Linked DNA regions of Homo sapiens: regions 2, 3 and 4 are each linked to region 1. Evidence: fine-mapped expression QTL. A gene starts in region 1. Each other region holds a variant in brackets. All regions are shown on one strand. Distances are from middle to middle.

Region 1 (2,687 bases):
TTTTAAGAAAAAAAGAAGAAAACTTCAGAAGGTCTCACGTCCTCCGAGCTCAGCGGACTTCATTAGACTTTCATAAAGTCCAAAGTCGGGGAGACAGGGCACTAGGGGGCTGATGAGGACCCAGCGGGAGAGAAGCTGGCTGCCCCTTCTGCAGCCCCGCCCCTCCTCTCATCACCATGGAGACGGAGCAGGCTGCCCAGTGGGGTTCCTGCCCACCCGAGGCCTGAGGCTGCTGCAGAGGGAGGGGCAGGGGCTGAGCAGACAGGGACCTGTCTGGAAAGCTGGGTTGGCGGTGGGGAGTGTCTACATCCCCCCAACTCCCAAGGCGCTGAGGGATTCGGGCTGGTGTGGGATGCATCTGGAGGGCTGTGTTTTGATCCTCGCTCTGCTAGCAGCTTGCTGAGTGACCGTGGGAAGAACGCTTCCCCTGGTGAAGCCTCAGGTTCTACATCTGCCAAAGGAAGGAGTAAAAATGTACAAAAACAGAAGCTTGGATAAGAAAGCTGTGGGATGAGGAAGCAATGAAATATTTAATGCTGGAGAAGAACATTTGCTACCTATTGTTTCTCGAAAAAAGGGAACTTTACCAAACTGACCAGGTGATCCCATATTGGTTAACAAACAAACATGGACTCTCTACCTATGCTTACCAACAAAAGAGGGAGAAAAGAAATACTCTAAAATACACTTTGGCTTGTCTCCGGAAGAGGGAGTTATATGTAATTTGTATTCTCTTGTTTCTTTCTCAAATTTTGGCCAATAAACATGGGTTACTTTTAAAATCAGGATAACATTAATAGCTAGCATTTGGATATTTATTTTGCACGGGCAGTATGCTAAATGCTTTACGTGGTTTTAAGCTCATTTTATCTTCTCCACAATCCAGAGAGGGAGCAGTACTATGTATTTCTCTTCTGCAGAAGAGAAAACCGAGGTTCAGAGAGGTTAAAGGGCTTGCCTGAGGTCGGACCACTAGAGAATGACAGGGCTAAGATTTAAAACCATAGCCAAGATACTAGACTCTAAAATGTGAGCATTGAATCATTACCACTACTGCCTCTCAGGACAAGAAAACACGAAAGCATCTGTTTTCTTAAATGTTTTACTATCAAAAATACAAAAGAAATCAAAAGTAGAAAGAAAAATATGAATCCTTATGTCTGTGCCACCCACCTTCAAGGGAGTCTGTAGATGGGGGCATTTGGGTGGGGACACAGAGCGGGGAATGGGGTGCCTAGGGAGGGGAACCAATCTACACACACACATACACACACGCACGCCCGCGCACACACACGCATGCATACATGGACATGCGAGCCTCCCAGGCTGCACTTCTCCCTGCCTGTGGGGCCCTAACCACAATGGAAAACCACAGCGGCCCTCCCTCTTTCCCACCCTCACCAGGTTCCTTCCTCCTTTCCACATTCTACTGACTTGCATTTCCCCAGCCGACTCTTTTATAGCTCCCTGGTTCAACCTCAAGGCCTTGAGGTTTTGGCAGCTCTGGAGGATGAGAGAGAACATGGCCAGGGGCCCTTGCAACGCGCCGAGATGGGCGTCCCTGATGGTGCTGGTCGCCATAGGCACCGCCGTGACAGCGGCCGTCAACCCTGGCGTCGTGGTCAGGATCTCCCAGAAGGGCCTGGACTACGGTAACTGGATGCCTCCCTTCCCTCCTCTCCACCCCTGAGGAGCACTTACTTAGCATCTACTGTGTGCACCCCTTTAGATCCAGCACCTGGCACACTCATAGCACCTCAGGGCAGGTCCCCTTGCCCCCATTTTATATATGAAGAAACTGAGGCAAAGCGAGTTGCCTAAGATTGCAGGGCTGGGATGGCAGAGCTGGGATTGGAGCACTGGTCTAGAGGACTCCAAGTCCAGTGCTCAGACCCCTGAGGGTCCTCATGGTCCCCTCCTTCCCTCTATGTAACCTCCACCTTTGACTTATAAGCCCTTCTCTTCTTTCCAAAGCCAGTTCTCAGCCTTGCCATTTGCCTCTCGTTGCTGAGGAGGCTGAGCAGGGTCAGAGGGAGAGTGTGGGAGGACCTCCCCACCCCGTGCTCTCCCCACTGCAGGGGCTGGCGGCCATACTGTGCACAGTGCTCCACTGGGTGACACAAAGAGGGTCCCCCCAGACCACTCACCCCAGCCCAGGCAGAGGAGAGAAAGACCTGCTCTAACCTGTGCCAGGCATTGAGCTAGGAACTTTACACACACAGTCTCTTTTACCCTCACTTCAGCCTTGTGTAAGACAAACTGCTGCTATCCACATTTACACGTGAGAAGTGGGCAGCCTGGATTTGAGCTCTGGTCTTGCCTGATGCCCCAGCACGGGGTTGCTCGATGCTGCCTCCCGATGGCAGAGAGATGACCTGCAAAACAGTGGGTGACACCCAGCCCCAGGGAAATCAGACCAAGGGGAAGGCAGAGCCTCACCAGTTGGGGTGCGTTGGGAAAACAGACAGGACTCAGGGGACCTGGTATCCCACCCCTGAATTCCCACCCCAGCCCAGCAGGACATCACTGAATCCTAGAGCTGCAGACAGAAGGCCACAGAAGACAGAAGAGCTAGGGGGAAGGAGTATGGCCCTGAAGCCTGTCGACACAGAGGCTCAGTCAGGGTCTTTAAGTTCAGTGGTCTTCATGCTCCGTCATAGCAGCCTGAGTTTCCCCTTCTACCCAGG
Region 2 (2,687 bases), 33 kb after region 1:
CTGTTAAAAAACAAAGAAAGACCAAGGTTCAGAAAAGCCACACAGTGTTAAATGAAGTCCAGATTCAAAGCCAGGCTCCCGGCTTTGAACCATCACTGCATCGTTCCCACGCTACACTCGGCAAAAATGAAATGCATTTGTGGGCCAAAGAGCCTCTTTTTTAAGGTGCATTTAAATATTTAACGAATATATGTTGCACACCTTTTGCACCCAGCATCATACTAGGCACTGTGGGGTATAACATGTGGTCGACGTCTGGCAGATTTAGACACAGCACAGAAGTCTCCTTCGTGGCTTTCGCCCAGGCTGACTTCCGTCTGCATTTGACACTGATGCGCTTCCTGGGCATGCTTTCTTCTCTTAGTTTCCAGCACTCCCCTAGCTCTTGGTTGTCTACCTGCCACCTCCTCTGCTTGTTCTCCTGCCCCTTCTCTGCAAGCTGGAGATCTCCAGGACCCCTCCCCAGGCCTCTTCTCTTCCCCCGCCATTGGCAAGCCTTCGTCACTCTTGTCAACCTCTTCAGGCTTAGCTGCCACCTGCGTGCCACCCAATGTCCCAGACATGCTTCCAGTCTTTTTATTTTTTCCAAACTCTCAGCTTGTGCATTCGCAGGCTCCCTCAATGTCTCCACCCTGAGGCCTCTTAAACCCAGCATGTCCCCACAAAGCTGTCACCTCCGCAGCGAAACCGTCACCCAGCTTGCATTTCTCACCTTGGTCAAAGGCTTTCCTGATAACTTGTGGCCCTCCTGGGGAGCCTCGCATCACCCAGATCCCTCCCTCTCCCTTTCCCCCAATGTCCAGGCCATCAATCCTCAATTCTTTAGACCAGGGAGCTAATTAATGGGGCTGAGAGACTGTAGAAAAATAACCAAGAGTGCAGAGGAAACACATACCGCATATTCCTCACATTTTACCAAGTTCGTGTTTTAAAAAAAATGACCCATGGCACAATTTAATTTCTTCATTTCTAAAAATCCTGAGTGAAGGACACAAAGAAGCAGAGAGAAGTGGTTTTGCAGCCTTGATTGGAACAAGCACTCCCTTGAGCTGCCATGAGGCAGGGACGACAAATGAAGGCCTCTAAAACAGCCCGGGGGGTCTCCGTGTCTAAGAAGGAGGCAGCTTCCAGGGAAGCTGCTGACAGATTCGCAGATGTTGGCAGCTGTGGATGTGTAGATCCGGGCAGCGAAACACTGAGTGACCCCCACTGGCCCTGCCTTTCTCCTTCCTAAGAGGCAGGCTCCCAAAATGTCCTTCTTAAAACTCCAGTAGCTCCACACTCACAAACAAGGGGTGCATCTTCAACTGGTGACAACATTCTCATCTCTCCCTAGAACTTCCTGCTGTTCGGTGCAGACGTTGTCTATAAATGAAGGCACCAGGGGTGCCGGGGGCTGTCAGCC[A/G]CACCTGTTCCTGATGGGCTGTGGGGCACCGGCTGCCTTTCCCCAGGGAATCCTCTCCAGATCTTAACCAAGAGCCCCTTGCAAACTTCTTCGACTCAGATTCAGAAATGATCTAAACACGAGGAAACATTATTCATTGGAAAAGTGCATGGTGTGTATTTTAGGGATTATGAGCTTCTTTCAAGGGCTAAGGCTGCAGAGATATTTCCTCCAGGAATCGTGTTTCAATTGTAACCAAGAAATTTCCATTTGTGCTTCATGAAAAAAAACTTCTGGTTTTTTTCATGTGGATTCTGTGTGCTGGTATTGTTTCTTGTTTTATGTTCATTTATTTATTATTCATTGGCTGTAACCAATGTGGCCGGCAGTGCCAGTTTACAGCACAGATACAATCATCTCTTTTTATTTCTATAATTAATCTCTGGAATCCCCACAGCCTCCATTAACAGAAAGTCTCATTGTTCCAAATGTCCTTGTGATTTTCTTAGTCCAAATTCCTAATGTCACACAGAGAGGGTCTGGAGAGTGGGTCAGTCCACTATGCTGTTGTTCTTTCCACTACCACATGGTGTGGCTGTTGACCCGTCATTCTGCACAGCCCATTGTCCTGTGTAGTCACCTGTCCACTAGGACTGTTGCTCCCGTCACTACCACACGGTGTCGCTGTTGAAAAGCTAGCCTGCACAGCCCACCTTCCCTGCCCCACACTTGGGCTCCCCGTTTCATCCATGTTCTCCTGCCCAGCCATTGTCCCCAAAAGCAGAACAATGGGCCAGGTGACAGAGTCCATTGGGGTTTTCTGCTTCAGTCACATCTTTGGGTGCAATTAGCACTTCCCCATGACTCTCCCAGCTCTAGTGTGGAAGCCAGATCACCAACCCAGACTGTCTTTGGAATTCTGGGGAGTTTCCTTGGGGGCTTTGGGCCATTTCCTGCCATGGGACATCAGAGGGGGCTATCTCAGCCCATGAGATGGGGTTTTATGGATTGTACTTCAGATTGATTGAGGAGTCCTGGAAGGCCTTTCTACACTGCTGACATGTGCTCTGAGACCATAAGGATGAGCAACAACACACTGGAGGAGTTCGATGCAGACGGTGGAGTGGGGGACCACATGACCAGATTTAGTTTTTAAAATGTTTTATTGTGACTTCTGAAAGCATCAGAAGGACAAGAGGGCAAGGGATGAGCACAAATTAGGAATGTGTTGTTATTCAAGCTTCAACCAGATTGGTGATGGTAAAATTGAAGAGAAGCATTTGTAGCGAGCAAAAGCAGATAA
Region 3 (2,687 bases), 53 kb before region 1:
GACTGAGGCTCCCTCCCACCCGTAGCCCACACAGTGCTGGGCGCAGGGGACCGCCATCACTATTTGTAGAATGAATGAGTGAATGAATGAGTGTCCACAGCCCATTGTGATGGAAACAGGGTCCGGGCACTGCCGTGGCAGTGAGCTCAGAGAGGATGATGGACCGACAGGCATCTGGTGCTGAAATCACATGTACCCAGGAGGTTTTACACTGAGGTGGAGGGAGGGGCCTTCAACTTGGCAGAACAGGGAAGGTCTCATCTGGCCCGGTGTCCTCTTCTAATCCCCCCCCAACCCCCACCAATCATGGTCAAACTCTGACATTTCCCACCCCATGCAATCCTGGGAGCAGTCCCTTCCCCTGCCAGGTGCCCTCCCCACTCCCTCCCTCCTCTCTCCTGAGACTTGGGCTCTGGCCTCTCTGTTGAGACGTTGGCTCCAGCCTCTCTGTGCAGCCTTGAGTAGGTCCTTTCCCTCTCTGGGCCTCTTTCCTTGTGTAAAGAAAGCATATTGAGCTGGGCTAAGCTTGATTTGTTTTGGTTTTGGAAATTTAATCATTCATGATGACTTTTATGATGTTTAGCATCTCCTCATACCATGCATACTATTAGCACTTACTATTTTTCTTCAAATCCACTCACTTTTTCAAAACTTACATAATTGTGTTTTTCAATGAGACTCTGTATCATCACAGTGGTTATGCAAGTGCAGCCAGACTGCCCGGGTTCAAACTCTGGTTCTGTCACTTACTGGTTGTGTGTACCTGGCAAGTCAGATTTAACTCGTTGTGCCTCAGTTTCCTCATCTGTAAAATGGAGACTGTAATTACACCCACCTTAAGGAGTTGATCAAGATTGGGTGTATTGAGGTAATACATGCGAATTCTCTGCACAGGACTAGAATTTAGTAGGTGCTCATTAAGTAAGAGCCATCACTACAATTTCTGTGGTCATATTATTATTATTATTATTATTATGGTGTGTGTGTGTGTGTGTGTGTGTCTGTGTGTGTGTGTGTGTGTGTGTGGTTTTAAGGAGCAGAAAGTTTAATAGGCAAGAAAGAAAGAAGGAAGAAGAAAACAGTTCCCCTGTATGGAGACAGAGGGAGGAGGATTCTAACAAAGAGAAAACCCCGTGTGCTGCAGAAAAGTGGCTGCTTCTACGAGGAGGTTGGAGGAGATGGTGTCTGATTTGCATAGGGCTCAAGGGATTGGTTTGACCAGGCATGTCACTCATGTAGCCCACGAAAAAACTGGCCCTACTACCCTAGCTTTTTAATATGCAAATGCAGGGCGCCATGATGTTCTACACAGGTGGGGATATGTGGGGGCGGCCATGTTACCAGGCACATGTGGGGGCAAGGGCAAGAAGAAGAAGGTAGGAATCACCATGTTTGGGTGGATCTGTGGCAATATTATAACTGTTATTACATCATCACTATAAATGGA[G/A]AAATAACTGTAAACTGGCATAAATCGAATGTAACTCCAAAAATAAACTGATGATGCATTGGATGGTTTTTGTATTATTTCATTTATTAAAATATATTTAAATATATTACTTATATAAAGTATATTTTTTGTTTACTGTTTGTATTTCTGTGAAAATAAACTACTTTAAAAAATAAAAATAAACAATGAAAACGAATAGTACCATTAAATTCTAGGGACATCTGGTCACCTCTTGGAGCCTAAGGGGGTCTTCTCCCTCTCTTTCTCCCAAATGCATCAGAGAGATGTTAAAGACATCTTATCCCCAGAGGAAGTCTTTCTCCTTAGGTCTGGAGAAGCTCAGGGAATTTGAAAGGGACTGATTGTCCATCACATGGTTCCATGTCATTTAGTTCCAGTCTGTGACATACCTTGTGTCTAACCAGGCCCGCATTCCTGGCCCCTATACTATGCTCATGACCTTCTGGACTGACCCAGGGAACCTTGTAGTGCAGAGGGACATAGAAAACTACCTGCTCACAGTGGTTATACCTGGGCAATGGAGTGGGGGTGGGGGGATGTGTATACTTCTATTTCAATGTCTTTGCAATGAGCCACTGCTATTATAGTCTTTTTTTTTTTTTTTTGAGACAGAGTCTCACTTTGTCACCCAGGCTGGAGTACAGTGATGCAATCTTGGCTCACTGCAACCTCCGCCTCCCGGGCTCAAGTGATTCTTCTGCTTCAGCCTCCCATGTAGCTGGGATTATAGGCACCCACCACCGCGCCCAGCTAATTTTTGTAGTTTTAGTAGAGATGCAGTTTCACCATGTTGGCCAAGCTGGTCTTGAACTCCTGACCTCAGGTGATCCGCCCTCCTCGGCCTCCTGAAGTGCTGAGATTACAGGCATGAGACACTGTGCCTGGCCCCATTATAATCTTAAGTATCATTTTCGTCAAGTAAAATAAACAAATTTAAAGGGCACAGGTTGATGCCTTTTTAACCTATGTATGAGCCCCTGTAACCACTTACCCAGATCAAGAGACAAAAGAGCTCCATACTCCAGAGAGAGGCCCCTTGCCAGTTGTCTATGTCATCACTGTGGTCTGCATCCTAACCTCAGGGAAACAGTGAGTTAAACTATCTTTCCCTGATGTGCCTCAGTTTCCCCTTCTGCACATAGATGGGATTCTGATTCCTATCCTACCTCACTCAGATGATTGTTCTAGACACACAAGGAGCTAATTAATGGATGTACAG
Region 4 (2,687 bases), 23 kb after region 1:
AGTTCAAGGTTAAGGTGTCAGCAGATTTGGTTTCTAGTGAGGGCTCTCTTCCTGGCTTGTAGACTGCCTCCTTCTTGTGTCCTCACAGGGCCTTTTCTCAATGCATGCATGGTGGCGGGTGGGAGAGAGCTCTCTGGTGTCTTTTCTTATAAGGACACTAATTCTATCAGATCAGGGCCCAACTGTTATGAACTCACTTAACCTCAGTTACTTCGTTAGAGGCCCTTCTCCAAATGCAGCCACACTGGGAATTAGGGTTTCAACATATGAATTTGGGAGGACACATTCTGTTCATAGCAGTGTCTCTGGTGGTGAAACCCCAGAAATTTCTATACAGAGAAGCTCTGGTTGGGGGGAGAGGTGTGGCTGCTAGGGGTGTCCAGGAGTGTTGTCTTGAAGCTTCATTTGCATAACAATCACATTATTTTTACTCAGACTGTGGGTTTACCTGGGGGAAGATCAGAGACTAAGAGAAAGGGGAAGAAGGTCACAAAGGCCCTCCTTAGTTCCCCCTTGAAGCCACTACTGCTGTCTGAGAAAGTAACATCTGCAGAGACCTGAAGGAAGGGAAAGAGCCGAGAGAAGAATGCGAGGAAAAGTATCTAACAATGGGGAACAGAGAGTGCAAAGGATTTTAGATGGCAAGAGAGCTTGTTGAGTTTGGGGCACAGAAAGAGTTCCATGTGGCCAGAGATGGAAGACAAGAGGCAGAGGTACATGTGGTGAGGTTGGCAGGGTGCCAGCTGGCAGACTGTGCAATCTTAGGATTTATTCTAAGAGCAATGGGAAGACATTGAAGGTATTTAAGTAGGGGCAGGCCAAGGTAGGATTCAGAAACATTTTAACAGAAACTCCTCCTTTCGTTGATTGTCTCCACTGGGGGCTGCAGGTGGCCAAGAAGTTTCCCAACATGAAGATACAGATCCATGTCTCAGCCTCCACCCCGCCACACCTGTCTGTGCAGCCCACCGGCCTTACCTTCTACCCTGCCGTGGATGTCCAGGCCTTTGCCGTCCTCCCCAACTCCTCCCTGGCTTCCCTCTTCCTGATTGGCATGGTAAGCAGTTCCTGGGTTGGACAGATGAGGAGCCCCAGACAGTCCCAACAGCACTGTCTTTGGAGTCAGGAGACCATGTGAATCCTGTCTGGATTCAAACCTGGACTGTGTCACTCCGGAGCCTGAGGCTTGAGTCACTGTACTCAATGGTGCCGACTCCTGGAGGTATTCATTCACCCAGCCATTCACTAGTGCGTTTGTTTACTTATTCATTCAATTATTCATTCAGTCAATTTCTCATTCATTCAATTATTCATTCCATGTTGGCTTGAAATATGTGTACTGTTCCAATTCATCCA[T/C]TTATATCTTTAGTCATTCAATTATGCATTTGTGTATTTGTTCATTCATTCAATTATTAATTCATTCAGTTATTTATTAGATTGTTGACTTGAAATATGTTATACATTTTCTGATTCCCACTTGCACTCATTTATTCAATTATTCATTTACTTATACCTTTGTTCAATTGATCATTCATTTGTATATTTGTTCATTTATTCGTCCATCATTTATTCATTCATGCATATCTTTGTTATTCTTCAATTCACATATTTTTTAATCCTTCATTTGCCTCAGTTTTCACTCCATTGTTGATTTATGCATTCATCCCTTTGATCACTCCATCACTCCGCAAAGATTTGGTGGCACCCATATGGCCACTGAGGGTGTGGTTCAGACACTCTCTGCACCAGGAAGCACTTAGAGGCCTTAGGCAGGTCTACTGGGTCTCCCAAGCTGAGACCTGTTATTCCCACTTTGCAGACAGAATAGGTCCTAAGAGGTCATCCAAGACCACACAGACTGCACAGAACAGCTGAGGTGGGAACCGGGGACTTCCTTCTCATATTTTTTGAATGAATTAATGAATGAGGGATTGTGAGAATGGGGCTGGCCTGTCTTATGCAGCCTCTCCGAGAGTGGCCCAAGAACTCTGAAATGGTCCTGGAAGTAGAGAGAGAAAATGGAAATTGACAGTTTAGGACTCAACAGCCACAAAGCCAAGGGAAGTCTCCCCACTCCTCTGGCTCTGTGGGCCTGACCCCACAGTGTATGCTGCCCTGCTGAGCCGTTGTGAAGCTGACCCTTCTTGGTTTGGAGGCCTTGCAATCAGGTGCCTGGGTCAGGGCACTTCACCCTGGGTTGTTGTTTTGGCAGCACACAACTGGTTCCATGGAGGTCAGCGCCGAGTCCAACAGGCTTGTTGGAGAGCTCAAGCTGGATAGGTAAGTGGGCCTGTGAGAGGAGGAGGGGGCTGCCCCTCTGTCCTTGGTGTCTGTGGGATGACAGTGGTCCTGTGATATACAGAAGCACTGCATTGTTGTTTTCCTGTTGGCTCATCACATTAAAACCTCAAAGAGTGTGCGATGGCCACAGTATCCCCATTTTGCAGACCATGAAACTCATGCTCAGAGAAAAAGTGACTTGCTCGAGGTCACACATTGTAGGTGACCAACCATCTCAGCTTACCCATAAATGTCCCGGTTCTAGCAGTGACAGTCCTGTGTTCTGGGATATGGCCAGTCCTCATGGCTGGGAGGCGTCAGCTGATGATCCCCACTGAACCACAACAGCATGCAGCCACTGCACGTCCCTGGCTTTCCTTGACACTAGGAGATCCCGCTTCAACTTC

Which allele goes with the higher level. Positions count from the first base shown, and alleles are read on the strand shown. Sizes are in standard deviations (SD) of each study's normalised expression. Not every link is listed here.
For the expression in testis of the gene that starts at base 1,455 in region 1, allele G in region 2 goes with a higher level than allele A (small effect, 0.27 SD a copy in GTEx).

The links. PIP is the estimated chance that this variant, and not a neighbour inherited with it, causes the effect.
Region 2: its variant is fine-mapped to the expression of BPI in testis (GTEx, PIP 0.95).
Region 3: its variant is fine-mapped to the expression of BPI in whole blood (TOPMed, PIP above 0.99).
Region 4: its variant is fine-mapped to the expression of BPI in whole blood (TOPMed, PIP 0.90).

Annotation. Positions count from the first base shown.
Region 1 is chr20:38,302,702-38,305,388 of GRCh38, forward strand. BPI (bactericidal permeability increasing protein) reads left to right here and starts at 1,455. Exons shown (of 15, transcript NM_001725.3): 1 at 1,455-1,652. The coding sequence starts at 1,523.
Region 2 is chr20:38,335,810-38,338,496 of GRCh38, forward strand. BPI (bactericidal permeability increasing protein) reads left to right here. Exons shown (of 15, transcript NM_001725.3): 15 at 1,337-1,696. The coding sequence ends at 1,375. Among named protein-coding and RNA genes, the nearest start is that of LBP, 9.3 kb to the right of the region's middle. The variant A/G (reference allele first, on the strand shown) is at 1,406.
Region 3 is chr20:38,249,511-38,252,197 of GRCh38, forward strand. The region is part of intron 1 of KIAA1755; the gene reads right to left. It overlaps LOC124904900 (a long non-coding RNA gene), which reads left to right and starts at 2,453. Exons shown (of 3, transcript XR_007067581.1): 1 at 2,453-2,687. The variant G/A (reference allele first, on the strand shown) is at 1,448.
Region 4 is chr20:38,325,376-38,328,062 of GRCh38, forward strand. BPI (bactericidal permeability increasing protein) reads left to right here. Exons shown (of 15, transcript NM_001725.3): 10 at 890-1,057; 11 at 2,213-2,280. Among named protein-coding and RNA genes, the nearest start is that of LBP, 20 kb to the right of the region's middle. The variant T/C (reference allele first, on the strand shown) is at 1,357.